5 linked regions of the Homo sapiens genome follow. The protein of the gene in region 3 purifies or fractionates together with the protein of the main gene of each other region. This does not show direct contact. Each region holds a gene or a part of one and is shown on either strand. Other genes may lie near its edges. The genes, in order: KYAT3, SDHB, SLC17A1, RAB31 and DLAT.

Region 1 (3,518 bases), on a different chromosome or scaffold from region 3:
AGATATCTATTCTTCTATGTCCCACAGACACCCAAACTCAGCAAGTTTAAAGCATGAGAAGCAGGAATTCCCTTTGCTCAGCCCTTCCATACAAATCTGCTCCTCTCCATATTTACCCTGGTTAAAGGTCTCATCACTGCTGAGTAGTTCAGGCTAGAGATCTTAGTAGCATGCTTGTTTTCTTCCCACCTTCAAATGCTATACTCTATAGTTTCTAAATAGCCCCGATGTACCATCTTCACTGCTAGGTTATCTGATTTGCTTAAGACCCTCCTCTGTGGCTGGCTCTCATCTTTGTAAAAAAAAAAAAAAAAAAATCTAGTCATGGAACCATTTCTCCTGTTTTGTTACACCTTTTGCAATAGTTCTCAAAGTAAGCTCACTGGCACTCTGGTGATCAAATTAATGTGCAGAATTTTAAAAAATCAATGTTAAGTTTTCTACCACACAATTTTCTTAAGCCTTTAGCAAATACTACCACTTATCTGATAGTGGATGCTCCAATAGTGAAACAGATGAGCATTTAGTAAATGCATATTAATGGCAAAATCAGAAAAACTCAAATGTGTTTATTTCAATAGCTTTTTGTTGTGGACAAGTATGAACAGAAGTGTGATTTTTATATTGGCTTCTAATTGTTGGATTTCTTTTAGGAAAATTGCTATTACTTTCAGGATGGAATTCACAATATCACCATTTCATGATGTAGAACACTGTGATCTCATGGTGATCTACCACTAAAGTAAGTTTCAGAACCACTGACCTCCTCAACAAAGTTTATACTCTATCTCATATTCAAAGTCCTTTAGAATCACCCTAGTTTTCCACCCTGATCTATGCCAGTTACTAAAACACACCCTCATAAATCAAACTGAGGCGAGGTTCTATGGCTTATGCCTGTAATCACAGCCCTTTGGGAGGCCAGGGCAGGAGGATCGCTTGAGTCTAGGAGATTGAGAACAGTCCGAGCAACATAGTGAGATGCTATCTCTACAAAAATTTTTAAAAAATTAGCCAGATGAGGGGGTGCAGACTTGTAGTCATAGCTATTTGGGGGGCTGAGGTGGAAGGATTGCTTGAAAGCAAAAGTTTGAGATTACAGTGAGCTCTGAGCCACTGCACTCCAGCCTGGGTGACACAGCGAGACCCTGTCTCTTAAAAAAAAAAAAAAATTAAGGCTGGGCACGGTGGCTCACACCTGTAATCCCAGCACTTTGGGAGGCCGAGGTGGGTGGATCACGAGGTCAGGAGTTTGAGACCAGCTTGGCCAACACGGTGAAACCCCATCTCTACTAAAAGTAAATTAGCCAGGCATGGTGGCATGCACCTGTAATCCCAGCTACTTGGGAGCCTGAGGCAGGAGAATTGTTGGAATCCAGGAGGCAGAGGTTGCAATGAGCTGAGATCGCACCACTGCACTCCATCCTGGGCAACAGAGCAAGACTCTGTCTCAAAAAAAAAAAAAAAAAAAAATTAAATAACTTATTTACCTTTCTTCTTCTTTGTTTTTAAAATTTCAATAATCATTTACCTTTCTTAAGTGTATCTTGATCTTTCATACCTCCTTATCTAAGTACATGCTAGTTTATGTTTTAGGAGTTTAGTTTCTATTTCTCTGTTTAGCTAATTCTCTATCTTTTGGCCACTCCTTTTTTATTCCCCTCAAACAGTCGCTTTCTCTTCCCATCTCTATAGCAACTTGTAATATACTATAGGAATAATTATGGCACATGCAACAATGCAACAATTTAATATATAAGTGCATTACATTTCTTATTTTTATTTTTCTTAAAAAAAATTAGCCGGGTATGGTGGTCTGTGCCTGCAGTCCCATCTACTTGGGAGGCTGAGGTGGGAGGATTGCTTGAGCCCAGGAGATGGAGGCTGCAGTGAGCCAGTGGTGCCTGGGCTCAAGGGATCCTCCCACCTCAGCCTCCAAGTAGCTGCGACTACAGGCACAGACCACCATACCTGGTTGATTTTTTGAATTTCTGTGTAGAGACGGGGTTTCTCCATGTTGCCCAGGCCAGTTTTGAACTCCTGGACTCTAGCAATCCACCCACTTTAGCCTCTCAAAGTGCTGGGATTACAGGCATGAGCCACTGTACCTGGCCTAAATTTTAAAATTTATCTATCTCTGCCACATTTTTTAGTCATCCTTCTCTTAATCTTTTCATCTTTCATCTTCATTTATTCAACAATTTCTTTCTAATTCTCTACCATGTACAAGATTCTATGGAAAATGGGGATGCAGAAGAGACTAAAACAAACAAAATCCCTCCATTACTGTGGTTTAGAAGTAAAATATATAGATTCTGATATTTACTATAGAGGAAAAAACAAAACAAAACAGAAAAAGGACAAAGCAAATGCTGGAGGGAGAGGTGTTAACTATTTTCAATGTGATGGTCATGAAAACTGACATTGGACAAAGGCCTGAAGGAGGTGAAGGATATTTGAAGTCAGGTGGATACCTGGAGGAAAAGTGTTTCCAGGCAAAGGAAAGGGAGGTGCGAAGACCCAAAAGTTGCAGCCCAGTTTGTAATCCTATAGTTGACATGGTTTGGACTACCCCAGCAGACAGTACGGCATTCATGAGATAGCCCAGTAGTAATGGCTGAATCTCAAGCAAGGGCCAAGCAGCATACCTGACTACCCCTGTAATTTCTTTCTGTTGACTTGGCATTTTGGTAAGTTGTTCAGCATAGACCGTCTAGAACCTTTTCAGGCACAAGAAAGCTCCCTGTGTCTTATGTACCAAGTAATTGCTGGATTTCTGCTAAGAAGCCAGGGATATATGGGCAAAAGAACTACTTTTCTGGTATCATAGCTTTATAGTATGATCCAAAATCTCTTACTCTTTGTCCTTTGAACTATTCATCAATTCACTAAAGTATTGCTCATTTAAATACTATTTTAAAGTGTTCATACAGACAGATACCCATTACAAAGACTGTTTTAGAGTTGGTCTGGGATGCTTTCCAATCAGTTCTTCCATATGTGCCCAAACACATTTAGATATGTGACTCTGTGTTATAGTTGGTACCTATTTTTAAGTGCTTATTTCCAGAATATACAAGCCATTCATAAACCTCATCGCTGATGCAGAGTGTGTCATATTTGATGCAAAGGTCAGCAATTACTTGCAGTTCCTCTCTGTTATACACCTACACATAATAAAGGAAAGAGCACAGCCAATTATTCAACATGTGAGAAAATGATAGGTCAGAAGACTGTATAAGGAGATGAGACTTGCTTACCTTGCCAAGTGGGTTATGTGGAGTATTTAGTATAATAGCTTTGGTTTTGGAATTAAATTTACTTTCCAGTTCTTGAGGATCTAATGTCCAGTCAGAACTAGACCATCTTTTTCCATAAACAGGTTTCTAAGCATGAAGAATGAAGATATAATTTAATTCAATTAAGTCATGTTTACTGTCTTACAAACGAATAACCTAATAAGGAAAAAAACATCAAAGAAAGTCATGGCAAAGGAAACTGAATAAATTACCAACAAA
Region 2 (2,424 bases), on a different chromosome or scaffold from region 3:
GAGTTGATGTTTGCAGTGAGAGGCCCCACGAGGTCATTTGTGGAACTAACTGGATTCACAACTGACCAGGGTCATTGCTCTGTGCTGGAGGAATCTCAAACCTGGCCTCACCGACGTATCCAAAGACTTACCAAGATTTGGTTTTCAGTAATTCTGGTACTGAAAACTATAGAAACTGGGAAGATACAGAACACTAACACTAACTGAGTGTTCAGAATAAGTGCCAGGCATTCTCATACCAGATGAATGAAGTAGGCACAATTATGGATCCCATCTTACAGATGGGCGAATGGAGCAGCAAAGAGGTGAAGGAACTTGTCCAAGGTTGTCTAGCTGGTGAGTGGCAAAGCTGGGAACAAGCTGCAGGCCCTGCTGATGTCAGTTCCACGGCTCATCACCTCCTTCCAGCTAGGGTACCCCCACCCCCGCTCAGCTCTGAAGCCCTGTCCATCTCTCCAAGGACAAGGACTCCTGGCACCTTCACATTCCCCTGCGGCAAGTAAAGGAACAGGTTCTTTTTTTTTTGTTAATAAAGTAGAATAACATTTATTTCTTAAAATTTTTATTATACATGCTGTATTCATGGAAAACCAAGATCTTTAAAGGAACTCAAATTAGATATAAATTATGTTCAGCTCTGAGCTGGTTATAAATCATGTTTAGCATGGAAACAGTTAAACTGAAGCTTTCTTCTCCTTATAGGTTGCCATCATTTTCTTGATCTCTGCAATAGCTTTCCCTGGATTCAGACCCTTGAAAAAAGAGAAAAGAATCAATAACAAATGATAACTGAAACTGAAAGGGAAAACCCACAATCTTGGGTGAAACTCCTTCCTCAGCTGGTTCAGTGTCCAAGCAAGGTGAATGCAAATCAAGTCCCTCAAAACCATAGGGGTTGGGCTAAGGGCTCTCTTCTGTCTACCTTTTTTAACATTTGAAGATGGTCAGCTCCCTCTGGCAAGAGCTCTGCCACGTTGAATTCCTTCTTGTGTGGCTCACTCTAACAGGTAAACAGGCCCAGGGCAGAGGTGCACTCTCTGACTGCTCAAAGACACTCAGGGTAGTGTCTCTTCTAGGACTACAGGCCAATGTCAAAATCAGCCAGACATCTCTAAATCTTTTACATCATCATTATTAAATAGGCAGCAGCAGAAATCAGCATATACCAGCTCTCAAAAGTATGTGGAAGAAACTACCCTCTCTATTAACCCTTTGTAAAACCATGATGATTTCAACTGGCCAATACCATTGGTATTAGCTGCAGTTTGCCCCTACAGCTGTTAACATCTGCTTTGCAGGAGGCACAATAATTAAACCCACTGAATGCCAGCTTCATTGAAGTAGAAAGTAGGAAGTACTTTACCAAGTACTTGCTTTTACCAAGCAAGTACTTGGTAAAATGAGACAAGTACTCATCTGACGTTAGTGAAGGTTCCCCTCATTTTAGAAGGATAAGTCTACCCCCCTAAAAAAGTGTTGTGGAAAGAAAGAAGAAAAGGAAAGAAAGAAAAGAGATCTTGAGAGAAGAAGAGAAAGAAAAAATATATATTTTTTTGACAGGGTCTTGCTCTGTCATCCAGGCTGAAGTGTGATCATAGTTCACTGTGGCCTGGAACACCTGGCTCAAGTGATCCTCCGGCCTCAGCCTCTCAAGTAACTGAAACTACAGGTGCGTGCCACCACACCTGGCTAATTAAAAAAAATTTTGTTTGTAGAGATGGGATCTCACTATGTTGTCCAGGCTGGTCAAAAAGACACTCTTCATATACCAACATGGGATAATCTCCAAAATATAGTGGGTGAAAAAATACAGATAAATGTGATATAAGAAAGACAGAAGAGGACACATATGCATTTGTGTGCAGCATAAAACACCTCTGAAGTTCACACAAGAATCTGACTTCTAGGGAGGTGGCTGGGTGGAGTGGGAGGGAGAATTTTCACTGTATATCCTTCTGAATCTGGATCTACCTGTGTATTTCCGGTCCCCACAGGGTCAGTAAGGGTGTTTAGACTTAGAAGGTTGGTACATACCCAATCCATGCAGGAAGAAAGAGCACTGGATGGGGAGGCAGACGGCCTAACTCTAGTCCTACCTTCCCACTGACCTGACAGTGATCTGGGGCGAGTCACTCCCCTCCCCACCTGGGGCTCAATTTCCCCATCTGTATAAGGGGATTAAACTTGATGGTTTTCAAGTCCCTTCCAGTTTCATGATCGGCCTATGTCTATGTCTCAGTCCCAACTTCCAGCCCTGTTTTACAGAAGGGAGGGCAAGGCACAGAGAACCTGTTCTTGGCTGTCTCAGTTGTCTGCTGCACCCATCCCCTCCATGCACAGGTTTGTGACCAGGAATGCACCTTAGAGTCACTCGCAGAGCTTCTGAAGAAACACACAGCCAGGCCCCACCACTGAAGATGCTAT
Region 3 (3,989 bases):
CTCCTGGGCAAAGGGGTTAAAGATTTACAACATTTCTTTAGAGGAAAAAAATAACTGGTTGAATTTACAGAGCATCTGCTATGTGCCAAACATTTAATGAGCACTTTAAAAGCATGATAAAAATTAAAAAAAAACTTGTTAAGCATGAAATAAATTACCTATAATGCAAAATCACTGATTTTAGTGCTTGGATATTTTTAAGTAATTAGTAGATTACCTTCAAAGAGTTCTAAGTTAAAAGTATTAGGGGCCAGGCACGACGGCTCACGCCTGTCATTCCAACACTTGGGAGGCCAAGGCACAAGGATTGCTTGTGGCAGGAAGTTTGATATCAACCTGGGCAACACAGCAAGACCCTGTCTCTACCAATTAGCTGGGTACAGTGTTGCATACCTGTAATCCCAGCTACTTGGGGCTGAAGTGGAAGGATCCCTTGAGCTCAGGAGTTCAAGTCTGCACTGAGCTATAATTGCACCATAGCACTCCAGCCTGGGTGACAGTGTGAGATCCTGTCTCTCTATGTTTTTTTTTTAATGTTTCTGGATATTGCTATAACCAAGTGGATGAACCAGAACCTACAGTAATTGCAGGAAGAGCCATGAGAGAAGCCACACCTTCCAGAGGACATGCCTCAATAAAATGTACCTCTTTCTGAGTATGCTGAATGTCAAACAGATGTACTGTTTAGAGAGGAGTGTGGAGGAGACAGGGTGAGGGAAGGAGGGAAAGCAAGGAAGGAGGGAGAAGGAAGAAGGGAAAGAGAAGGAAGAAAGAAAGAAAAAAGGAAGAAAAGGAGGAAGAAAGGAAGGAAGGGAATTAAGAGTAAAAATTTAATATGGCATTTATGGGGCATTTAGAAAGCCACAACATTCCTGTGAGAACAGCATTGTATACTCAGAGCCATCCTTAATAGAGAAATCTTGAGAGCACTTATGGCAGGCAAGCTCTACCTCCTGGGCAGGGAGAGAGACTAAGGGTGTCTGCTTATTATGCCATGAAATTACTGGCAGATTCCCAGTTTCTGGTCCACTGGATGATTTTGACCCACACACCTTCCCTGAAGCTTTAAGGAAAAGGTAACAGTAAAGTTAAAAATTAAGCTTTTAACTTCGACACAGTGATGTCAAAAGATTTGGTGAATGATTTATGGGGCTAAACTTGGTAATCCTAGAAAGTCAATATTGTGTAAAGTTGAGAGAAAAGTCTTCACAGCGGAAGAAGAAATCACTTTTTTGTCCCGAATCAGGTTAGTCTACGGGGCTCATTAAATGAAATGAGCAATCAGTTGATTCCCCAGAGGGCCGTAAGGGGGCATTCCCTGGCAAAGATATTATTGAAAGTACTTAGCAATAGGGGAAAATGTGGGGAGGGGTGGAATATGCCCTATCTTCTGAGGCTTTTCACAAGAGAAAAAAGAACATATTTTTAGCAATCAGTGTGAGGTTCACAGGGACACAAGGAAAGAGAAGTATGTGTTGTACAGTGTGTGATGCTTGTATAGCTGTGGTGTGCTGTGTCTGTAATGTGTGTGGCACACTGTGTACGCCTGGTGCATCTGTGCCCATCATTTATGTGTGTGTGTGGTTATGTGTGTGGTGTTTGTAGTTTGTACTTCCGTTTTGAGGATGCAGTATTGTAACGTATTTATATGTTTGGTTTGCTATGTGTCTGGAGTGTATGTGTGGAGAACATAAGGGGAGTTTGTACCATGTGTTTATGTTGTATGTATGTATGTGGTGCATACGTATGGGTGGTTTGTGTGTGCATTTGGTGTGTATGTATATATGTATTGAAATAAACAGCAGCCCCAGAAGAGGTTCCAATGTGTGATAATGATGGTTGACAAATTGCTTATTCAAAAATATTTTGCAAATCCAATCTCAGGACTTTGGTATCTTTGGGGCACTAGGTATCATATAATCTGATATGGTAAAATCCTGAGGTCTAACCTGACCAGCACATATTGGTGCTGAATTCTGATGGTAAGGGGTTGCCTGATAGGAGACTGCTCCATTCTGATTCTCCACTGAGCTTCCTGCCATAAAGCTTTGCATCAGTGGCTGCTCTATCCACGGAAACTGAAGATACGGACAGGGGCATGTGGACGTGTAACGAATGATTAGCCTCTGCTTGAGTTGATCTTATCAATAAGCAGATAGTATCTTCCAGCTCTATTAAGATACAGGGGGAAAAAAGGAATTTGTTTTACCTTTGCTTACTCCTTTTCTGACATTCTTCCTTTCTTTTCATACTGCCGAGTTTCTGACCTATAGCAATCTCCTTCTGCCTGAAAGGCTTCTTTTAGTGTTCCTTACAGGGCAGGTCTACTGGCAATGAATTCTTTCCATTTCTCACTTTGGAGGAATATTATCACGGATTTAGAATTCTGGATTGGCAGGGTTATTTGTTTGTTCTCTGTAGTTTTCAGGTCTTCCATATATTTTTAATCAACCAAAACAATCACAAAAGTAAAATAAATATCAAGGGAAGCACATAATGGAGGTGAATGGGCACTGCTGTGATGGAGCAAGTTATCCTTGGAAGCGGTTTTAAATCAGAGAGGAGTACTGGGTAGTGTTTGGTCAGTTGCCTCTCTACATTATGCTGACATCAACGTGTTTTGCACTCACAGTGGGTGGAGGCAAAACCCTTCAGCAAGAAGAGAAGCAACTTCAGCCGTGTATGCAAATGGATAACCGGTTGCCTCCCAAAAAAGGTAGCACTTTATTCTGTTCCATTAAACAGGTGTTCTTTTTCTTAAATATTACATCACAGATTCCATGTGGAAGAATATTTTTGTGATATACATATGGGGTCTTAAAAATGTTCAGAAAAGAAGGTAGAAGAAACCAGTCCTACTATGGTTTTCCACCAGAAAAGCCCTAAATAAAAAGATTCTACATACTCTGGTGGCTTACACTTTATTTTCATTTTTGCGCACTTGTCAGTTTATCATTTAGTGGAAAATATCAGAAAAAACTGGGCTATTTTGGTTCCATCTCCAAGAGAAAGAGAGATAGATCTGTAAGTGGAAGTAAGGCAGGATGAATGTTCTTGAGTCCCTGCATTCTTGGACATCAACAGCTGAATGTGTACTGAATATTTTTTGAGAGAAGCTGTTTATTTTAGGCAGGGTAGTGTAATGACAATAAAGGATTACTGCTATTGGTTTAGCGTTGTGTCAATGTCATAGGGGACAAAATCCCAGAAAAGGAGATGAGCGATAGATTGTATACTTTTTCAACTTATGAAAAAGTTACTGTATATTAAATTATGTATTTCTTCTTGTATCAACTTTGATACTTAATTATTTTGATTGTTTAAGTTGTCCATTTAATCTGCATTCAAAGTTTATATATATATGTTTTTTTCTATATATTATTCATTTCTGCCCTTATGCATTTAATTCCTTTTAGACTTTTTGGGTTTGTTCCTTTGCTCAGTTTCCAAGTGTTTAAATTCTTTCTTTTTTGATAAATATATTTACAGATGCACATTTTACTCTGTCCATGAGTTTGATATGCGGTATTCTTATTACTCAATCCCAAACACTTTAGAATTCCCCCTGTGGTCTTCTTTTTAACTTAAAACTTGTTTAGACATAATTCATGGACTTCCTGGAGCAATGTGGAGGAGAGAAATGAGTAAAACTCAAAAGCATACCCCTAAATGACTAAGACAATGAGCCCTTCTCTGACATGGTGACAATGACTTCCCTTTTACCATGTAGAGACTCCTGCAGGTGTGTTTACAAAGTTTCTGATAGCTTTCTAGATCCATTCACTTCCCTATGATACTGAGTTTAGGCAGCAAATCAAAGGAAGGGCTGGCTGATGATTAAATTTCTCAGGGGTATTCTTTTACCCCCTTCTATTCAGCTCTTAAGTTCATATGGCACAAAATTTCTTGGCAGTCCACTGACAAGATAAGGGGGCAATGTGTTCATCCTCCATTGAACCATGTAAATCTTTGACATCCAAGCATTTTAG
Region 4 (4,107 bases), on a different chromosome or scaffold from region 3:
TAATTGGATGAGCAGCTAGAAACACAGCCTGCTGCACACATCTCACCCAGGAAAGAGCCAGCCAAACGAGGGGATGTGGCAAATCTTACTCAGTGTGGACAACAAGGTCATTTGGTCTTTCAAATAAAATGTCCTCTGATTTCAATAAAACTGAAACTTACAGCCACCCTCAAAAAAAAAAAAAGGAAGCCACAAATGTGGTGTGATATGACTGATGTTTCTTTTCTTTTGTTTTCTTTTCTTTGAGATAGAGTCTCACTCTGTCGCCCGGACTGGAGTGCAGTGGCGTGATTTCGGCTCACTGCAACCTCCACCTCCCAGGCTCAAGCGATTCTCCTGCCTCAGCCTCCCGAGTAGCTGGGATTACAAGCATGCGCCGCTACCGCCCAGCTAACTTTTTTTTGTATTTTTAATAGAGACGGGGTTTGACCATGTTGGCCAGGCTGGTCTTGAACTCCTGACCTCAAATGATCCCCCCGCCTCAGCCTCCCAAAGTGCTGGGATGACAGGTGTGAGCCAACGCGACCGGCCACGATTGATGTTTCAAAGCCTCCGTCTGCCCAGAAACCTCTTCTTTCTCTGCTTTGGCATGGTTCTTCCAACTCCAAGTTCAAATTCCTACACACAGAACTGGCAAAGGTAAGGCACTGTCTGCAGGAAGCCACTCAAAGAGTGTGTATCTTTCTTGGAGATAAAAGAAGTAAAGAGATTTCCTCCAGCTTCCTCCTCTCCCAGGTTTGCTAATTGGCACCCTGAACTCATAGATTAGCAGGAAATGGTAACATGTATCTTAAGAGATCATCTGGTGTAGTCCTCTGCCTAAAGGGGGAACATGTTATTATGCCCATTTCATAGATGAGGCCACTGAGTTGCTTTGCTAAAACGACACAGCTCTTTGGTGGGAAAGAACGAGAGCCTAGGTTTCCTGCCTCTTGACACAGGGTTCTTGCCACCTGATCAGTGTCCTGGTAGGAGGACATAGAGACCTGTCCCTAAACACCGAAACTGAAAATAAGGGGTCCTGTGACACGGCAGGGCTTGGACCACCTCAGTAAAAGTCAAGAGAAAAGAGTTGCAGAAAAAAAGGCAAAAATATGTCCTATTTCACCTTTCCCAAGGCCAGTCCTGACAAACACGGCACATCAAGGCTGCCTCTTCATTCCTTGGAACACGACATTCCTTCTAAGTCTCTGAAGGCCTTTCCTGAGGCTGAAATGGCCCCTCAAGAGGGAAGCATGGGATTCCTGGAATTTATGTCTGGAAATATTAGAGGGCCTGGGGAACAGGAAAACCCACTCCTGCCACACAAAAAGGTCAACAGAGAAAGACCAGACTAGATCCTGGCTGTGGCTGAGCAAGTCGGGGGAGGTGGGGATCTGTGCGGATCTGTGCCAGGGGCTAGCAGGGAGGGCAGGGCCTTCCCAGATCCTCTGGAATTCTAAGCCAACCGGACAATCGAGTTAGCGTAAGGGATGGTTTTGGAAGAGGCCGGTGATGGGAGCCGATGATGGGAGCCTGCCGGAGGTTCCACAAGAGCCTAGAGGAAGCCTAGAGACGCTGGCACAATTCAGTCCTCACCGAAATCATTTCCTCTTTCTACAGTTCTTGTACCCCCATCTTGACAGATCAGTTCGCACAAGAATGCGACCCTTTCGCTGCCCTTTTTTAGGAAATGGTTTTCATGAGACCAGCTTTGCCAATGACACGGGCGGGTACACCAGATGCTAATGGCTGCTGAAAACGCCCTTAGAACCGGCTCTTCTTTTAGAAGAAGGAATTCTGGAATGCGGAGTGGGCCCCCGAAAGGAAGCGACCCTACGTTTATCTGAATTCCCAGGGGCGGTTCGCCAGCGGCTCCCTGCGTCCTCGCCGGGTCCCCTGTCTGCAGTCCCCGGGCCGCACGGATTGACTGCTTTTTTGTTTCTGGCTGCTTTAAGGCTTCTTCGGGCGGAGAAAACCCCACTTTAGGGGAGTGATGGTGGGGAGGACTTTCCCAGGCAGCTTCTTTCACCCGCAGCAGGGAAGTTTGCAGGGCGCGCTCCGCACAGGTCACTGCCTCACCTTCCACCCCGGCCGCGCCCTCGGCTTTCACCCCCTTGGCTGGGTTCGCTTTTGGTTTTATTTTTCTGTTTTACGTGAGTAAATCAATTGCCCCCAGGAGGCAAAAGAGCACTCAGCGACTTGGCTGAGCAACTTAAACTTTCTGCCGGAAGGAAACTATCAAAAGCGGAGGAGAAAGCCCTCGGGGCCCCAGACTCGCCGCCACTGCCCCGTCCCCGCTGGGGGTCCCCGCGAGGTCGCCGCGGATCCGGGGACTCGCGGGCCGGGAGGAAAGAGCGGAGTAAGCCCGGGGCAGGCTCGGACCCGGACCCCGGCAGGGTGAGAGCGGGGGCGGACCAGAGGGGCGCACGGACGGCGGGGAGGCGGAGAACAGGCGGGGTGCGGAGAGCGAGGGGCGCGGAGAGCGAGGGGCGCACGGACTAGGGGAGCCAGGGGGACCCGGGGAACCAGGGGGCGCGCGGACGAGGGGGACGGGGGCTACGAGAGGGGTGCGGAGAGCGAGGGGATCACGGGGACTGAGCGCGCAGGGAATAGGGGAGCGAAGGGGCGCGAGAGCGCGGGCCGGGGTCCGCCGGCGGGTGGCGGCCAGGACTCACCCCGAGAAGGCACACTTTGAGCTCCCGTATCGCCATCATGTGCTCGCAGCCAGGCAGTGCCGGGGCTCAGCAGCATCCTCCGGGGCCGCCGCGCCCGCGCCCCGCCGGCGTCTCTCGCCTCTGCCCCTCGCTCGCGCCGCCCGCGGGCGGAACCGCCGCCGCTGCTATTTCTGGGCCGCCGGCCCCGCCGCGGTGGGTCACGTGGCCGCCGGCCGGCTCCTCCCGGGCGCGTCGGGTCCAGCCTCGCCGGCCCCCAGCTCCCAGGAACGCCCCCGGACGGCGTCAGCCACCCGGGACCTGCGGCGTCGCCGGCGGATTGCCTCCGCCCTCGGACCAGCCCCGCGCGGGTCGGCCTCCCCCAGCGCCCTCCGGCATCCGCCCCTCCCGGCCCCGCCTGGCCGCAGGGCCCGGGTGGGTAGGAAGGACTGGACCGGCCCTGTGGAGACCTGGCCCCACTACCAGCGGGTCCCTGAAGATGCCATTCTCATCTGGAAAGCGAATGCTCTCGGCCGAGGCCGTTTGCGTGGCAGCGCGTGGAGGTCTGCGGGGGTCCCATCCTCAAGCGACATTCTGGGTCCCACGCAGAAAAAGTCAGGCCACTGAAGGGGCCGCTGTGAGGACAGGGGTGAGGAGAAGGGGGCTAACTTTTCGGCCTGCCTTTCTCGACGTTCCTAATACCCGAGCTTCCGTTTAACATATGTGTGGCTCTTCAGCTCAGCCAAGTTCATTTTTCTGTATGCAGCTGAAAATGATTCTAGAAGCAAAACTCGCTGTCCGTGTCTGAAACGGGAAACTTGCTTTCTGGAGCAAAAGTCTTTTTCTCAGTAGAGCAAATCCTGCAACTCGTGTGGGCAGAAACCCAGTCCTCAGAGGTACAGGTAGAAACGTGGAGATCCCAGCAGACCCCTGCATCGTTCCTAACTGGGAAATGAGCAGAGTCTGTGGCCGCACACAGTCGGGGAGGCTTGGGTAACTGTGTTCTCTTCTCCATGTATGGCCTAGAGCACCTCATCCACTCGGATGACTTCATTCGTTGCTGCTACAGAAATGTCAGCCTTTTCAATGTAATCTATCTGAACAATTCACTGGCATTTCAGATGGGAAATGTTTTTTTAAAAACTGATTTTTTGAAACTTCATCTCCTATCCCAAACTCTCAGGCCTCTCTCTTAACCTTCCAATTTTAATCAATGGCATTTCCATTCTCCTAGCAGACCACCCACCGTGATCATCTGGCTTTGTTCTTACGGAAGCCAGGTTGAAGCTACCCAGTACCCAAGTAGCCCCATCCAATGGGAAATTCCAAATCAAGGCCTCCAAAGAGATAAGTCCTGGAATACAGGAGTCAAAATGGGCCCCGAAACAGACAATTCACAATTAAATTCCCCAGAAGAGCAGGAAGTTTGCCCTCGAGGTGCAGGCTTGTAGAGATTACTCAAATGGACTAAACT
Region 5 (3,518 bases), on a different chromosome or scaffold from region 3:
TTACATCACCAACATGATTTTTATTTTTAATTATCCTAACTTCTTTTTTTTTTTTCTTTTTATTTGAGACAGAGTCTTGCTCTGTCACCCAGGCTGGAGTGCAGTGGCGCAAACTTGGCTCACTGCAACCTCCGCCTCCTGGGTTCAAGCAATTCTCCTGCCTCAGCCTCCCAAGTAGCTGGGATTAAAGGCACGCACCACCACGCCCAGCTAATTTTTTGTATTTTCAGTAGAGATGGGGTTTCACCATGTTGGCCAGGCTGGTCTTGAACTCCTGACCTCAAGCGATCCACCTGCCTCAGCCTCCCAAAGTGCTGGGATTACTGGCATGAGCCACCACACCCAGCCAGCTAATTTCAAAATATAAAATTATGCTGTAAGGCCCCATGTTGAAAAGTATCTTAAGAAATACGGCCAGGTGTGGTGGCTCACACCTGTAATCCCAGCACTTTGGGAGGCCGAGGTGGGTGGATCACCTGAGGTCAGGAGTTCGTGACCAGCCTGGCCAACACGGTGAAACCCCTTCTCTACTAAAAATAAAAAAATTAGCCGGGCATGGTGGCTAACACCTGTAATCCCAGCTACTCGGGAGGTCGAGGCAGGAGAATTGCTTGAACCCGGGAGGCATAGGCTGCAGTGAGCCAAGATCACGCCACTGCACGCCAGCCTGGGTGACGGAGCAAGACTCCGTCTCAACAACAACAACAAAAGAAATCCAACAACAATGCTACTTGCCAGCTTCCCACAAATGTACAGTAGTCAGAAATCAACTTTTCTCTTATAGAAATGTTTACCTAGTTTAAACTCACATGATTCTAGCATCTGTGAGAATCACTGAAGCTTCACTGTCAGTGTTATCTCTGGTTGGAGTTATACAAGTTCAGGTTATAGTTATATAGTGTATCAAGTATTTGGTGATATAATAAATTCTAGGCAAAACAAGTCATGTCAAGGTTCCACTGTATCACAAATATATGCTTGACCTACTAAGTCAATAACAAGAGGATTTCAAGTGACAGAGATTATTCAGTATATTTAATAATAAATGGGCAATGAAGTGAGCTATGATTGCACCACTGCACTCCAGCCTCAGCAACAGGGTGAGACCTTGTCTCTTAAAAAAAAAAAAAAAGGGTGGGGCAATGAAGCCTTACTTTCCACAAGCATGGTATCTGTATCTAAAGCAGAAAGAGAACATGTCACTCAGCTTTGTTCTCAGCAGGACTCTAGATAGCAGGAAGAAAAAAGCTACAAGGCCCAAACTATCAACCATTAGGTGAACAGTGCAGTACAACAAACACTATAGGTCTCCACAAATGTTAATAAACTATCTCCCTCCTCAGTCATAGAATCTTGGAGGTGGAAGGAACCTAGGATATCATCTAATCAAAACTCCTTAATTTAGAGATGAACAAGGTAAGTGTTTCCTGAATTCTAGAAGCATACCTACCGGGGGTGGGGTAGGTGGTGGCACTTGTGGTTTTAAATCTGTTACTTCGGTTGGCCTATAGTCAGCAAATGCTGATATATCTGCCTCTTTTTCTACAATGATACAGAGTGGGGTTCCTAGAGGGACATCTCTTGTGCCTTCAGGGACCAGGATTTTTGCCAGATAACCTTCTTCCTGTACTTCAAAACCTTAAATAGAAAGAAAAAACATTATGGGACTTAAGAGATTCCACTATCCCTCCAAACTCACAGCACAGTTTTAAGTAAAGTGATTTTTCTCATTCAAGCTAGCTATATAGCCTTTTTTGCAACCTATTTAACCTTCTGTGTCTTGGTTTCTTTACCTACAATACGGGGATAATAATAGTACCAATCTCACTGGATTGGTACTGGGATGTTATACATTTAAACAGATTAATATTTTTCAAGTTCTTAGAAATAATACAACCTGGTACAAAGTAAATGCCAAATAAAAATCTGTTCAATAAAACTATGAAAGATTACAGACAGTGGTTAGTTCTCAAAGTTATTAAAAAATCTCCAAGGACAGTCCCCATGCAGACTCACAGGACTCTAAGATGGTGTCAGCTATGCTGCTAAAGATAAGAACCACATACATGCCTAATTAAGGGAGCTACCAACCTAGATACTAATGTTGGATTTCAGCCCTAAAAGCATCTTTGGAACTTTTCAAAGAGGTTATACTTGATATTATACCAAGTATTTCAATGTAAAGAATTACAGCTTTACTGGGATTTCTATGGTGTTGACAACTTATATTTTATTCAACTACTGCCTTCCTTGCAAAGAACTTAAACATTTAGGATTGCAAAAGTAAAACTAAAAGAAGCCATTGGCTTTCTGTACTGTTGTGCCTCTCCTTGATGAACACATCTTTGATGAATCCTTCCATTTCCCAGCTGAGAATACCCAATAAAAAATATGTTTAGGCTGGGCGCGGCGGCTCATGCCTGTAATCCCAGCACTTTGGGAGACCGAGGCGGGTGGATCACCTGAGGTCGGGAGTTCGAGACCAGCCTGACCAACGTGGAGAAACCCCGTCTCTACTAAAAATACAAAATTAGCCAGGCATGGTGGCGCATGCCTGTAATCCCAGCTACTCGGGAGGCTGAGGCAAGAAAATCACTTGAACCCAGGAGGTGGAGGTTGTGGTGAGCCGAGATCGTGCCATTGCACTCCAGCCTGGGCAACAAGAGCGAAACTCCGTCTCAAAAAAAAAAAAAAAAAAAAAAAAAAAAACACACACACACACACACACACACACACACACACATATATACACACACATATATATATATACACACACATATATATATGTTTAAGTCTGGAGATATATATATATATGTTTAAGGCTGGGCACGGTGGCTCACGCCTGTTATCCCAGCACTTTGGGAGGCCAAGGTAGGTGGATTACCTGAGGTCAGGAGTTCAAGACCAGCCTGGCCAACATGGTGAAACCCCATCTCCACTAAAAATACAAAAATTAGCCAGGCATGGTGGCAGGCGCCTGTAATCCCAGCTACTTGGGCAGCTGAGGCAGGAGAATTGCTTGAACCCGGGAGGTGGAAATTGCAGTGAGCCAAGATCATGCCATTGCACTCCAGCCTGGGCGACAAAGCAAGACTCTATCTCAAAAAAAAAAAAAAAAAAGGCTGGGTGCGGTGGTGGCTCACGCCTGTAATCCCAGCACTTTGGGAGGCACAAGGCAGTCAGATCACGAGGTCAGGAGTTCAAGACCAGCCTGGCCCACATAGTGAAACCACATTTCTACTAAAAATACAAAAATTAGCCGGGCGTAGTGGCATGCACCTGTAGTCCCAGCTACTCAGGAGGCTCAGGCAGGAGAATCGCTTGAACCCAGGAGGCAGAGGTTGTGGTGGGCCGAGATCACGCCACCGCACTCCAGCCTGGACAACAGAGCCAGACTCTGTTTCCAAAAAAAAAAAAAAGAAGTGTTTAAAATGAAAAGGCTCCTGGGCCACAATAGACTTCAAAGTTCAACCAAGGTAACACTTCTCTAGTGACTAGTCTCTATAGTGACACTGGTA

What was found.
Region 1: the proteins of SLC17A1 (region 3) and KYAT3 purify together in Homo sapiens (affinity purification with mass spectrometry; one large-scale study listed by BioGRID and IntAct). This does not show direct contact.
Region 2: the proteins of SLC17A1 (region 3) and SDHB purify together in Homo sapiens (affinity purification with mass spectrometry; one large-scale study listed by BioGRID and IntAct). This does not show direct contact.
Region 4: the proteins of SLC17A1 (region 3) and RAB31 purify together in Homo sapiens (affinity purification with mass spectrometry; one large-scale study listed by BioGRID and IntAct). This does not show direct contact.
Region 5: the proteins of SLC17A1 (region 3) and DLAT purify together in Homo sapiens (affinity purification with mass spectrometry; one large-scale study listed by BioGRID and IntAct). This does not show direct contact.

What each region holds. Positions count from the first base shown.
Region 1 is NC_000001.11:88,958,121-88,961,638, forward strand, and holds part of KYAT3 (kynurenine--oxoglutarate transaminase 3), read right to left. Parts: intron 3,387-3,518; coding exon 3,261-3,386; intron 3,168-3,260; coding exon 3,047-3,167; intron 1-3,046. UniProt on the Homo sapiens protein: Catalyzes the irreversible transamination of the L-tryptophan metabolite L-kynurenine to form kynurenic acid (KA), an intermediate in the tryptophan catabolic pathway which is also a broad spectrum antagonist of the three ionotropic excitatory amino acid receptors among others.
Region 2 is NC_000001.11:17,018,207-17,020,630, forward strand, and holds the end of SDHB (succinate dehydrogenase [ubiquinone] iron-sulfur subunit, mitochondrial isoform 1 precursor), read right to left. Parts: intron 753-2,424; coding exon 675-752; 3' UTR 516-674; downstream 1-515. UniProt on the Homo sapiens protein: Iron-sulfur protein (IP) subunit of the succinate dehydrogenase complex (mitochondrial respiratory chain complex II), responsible for transferring electrons from succinate to ubiquinone (coenzyme Q).
Region 3 is NC_000006.12:25,829,251-25,833,239, reverse strand, and holds the start of SLC17A1 (sodium-dependent phosphate transport protein 1), read left to right. Parts: upstream 1-1,187; 5' UTR 1,188-1,246; intron 1,247-2,632; 5' UTR 2,633-2,682; coding exon 2,683-2,716; intron 2,717-3,989. UniProt on the Homo sapiens protein: Important for the resorption of phosphate by the kidney. May be involved in actively transporting phosphate into cells via Na(+) cotransport in the renal brush border membrane. Plays a role in urate transport in the kidney.
Region 4 is NC_000018.10:9,706,995-9,711,101, reverse strand, and holds the start of RAB31 (ras-related protein Rab-31), read right to left. Parts: upstream 2,802-4,107; 5' UTR 2,697-2,801; coding exon 2,658-2,696; intron 2,431-2,657; exon of another isoform or gene 1,109-2,430; intron 1-1,108. UniProt on the Homo sapiens protein: The small GTPases Rab are key regulators of intracellular membrane trafficking, from the formation of transport vesicles to their fusion with membranes.
Region 5 is NC_000011.10:112,035,393-112,038,910, reverse strand, and holds part of DLAT (dihydrolipoyllysine-residue acetyltransferase component of pyruvate dehydrogenase complex, mitochondrial isoform 2 precursor), read right to left. Parts: intron 1,639-3,518; coding exon 1,451-1,638; intron 1-1,450.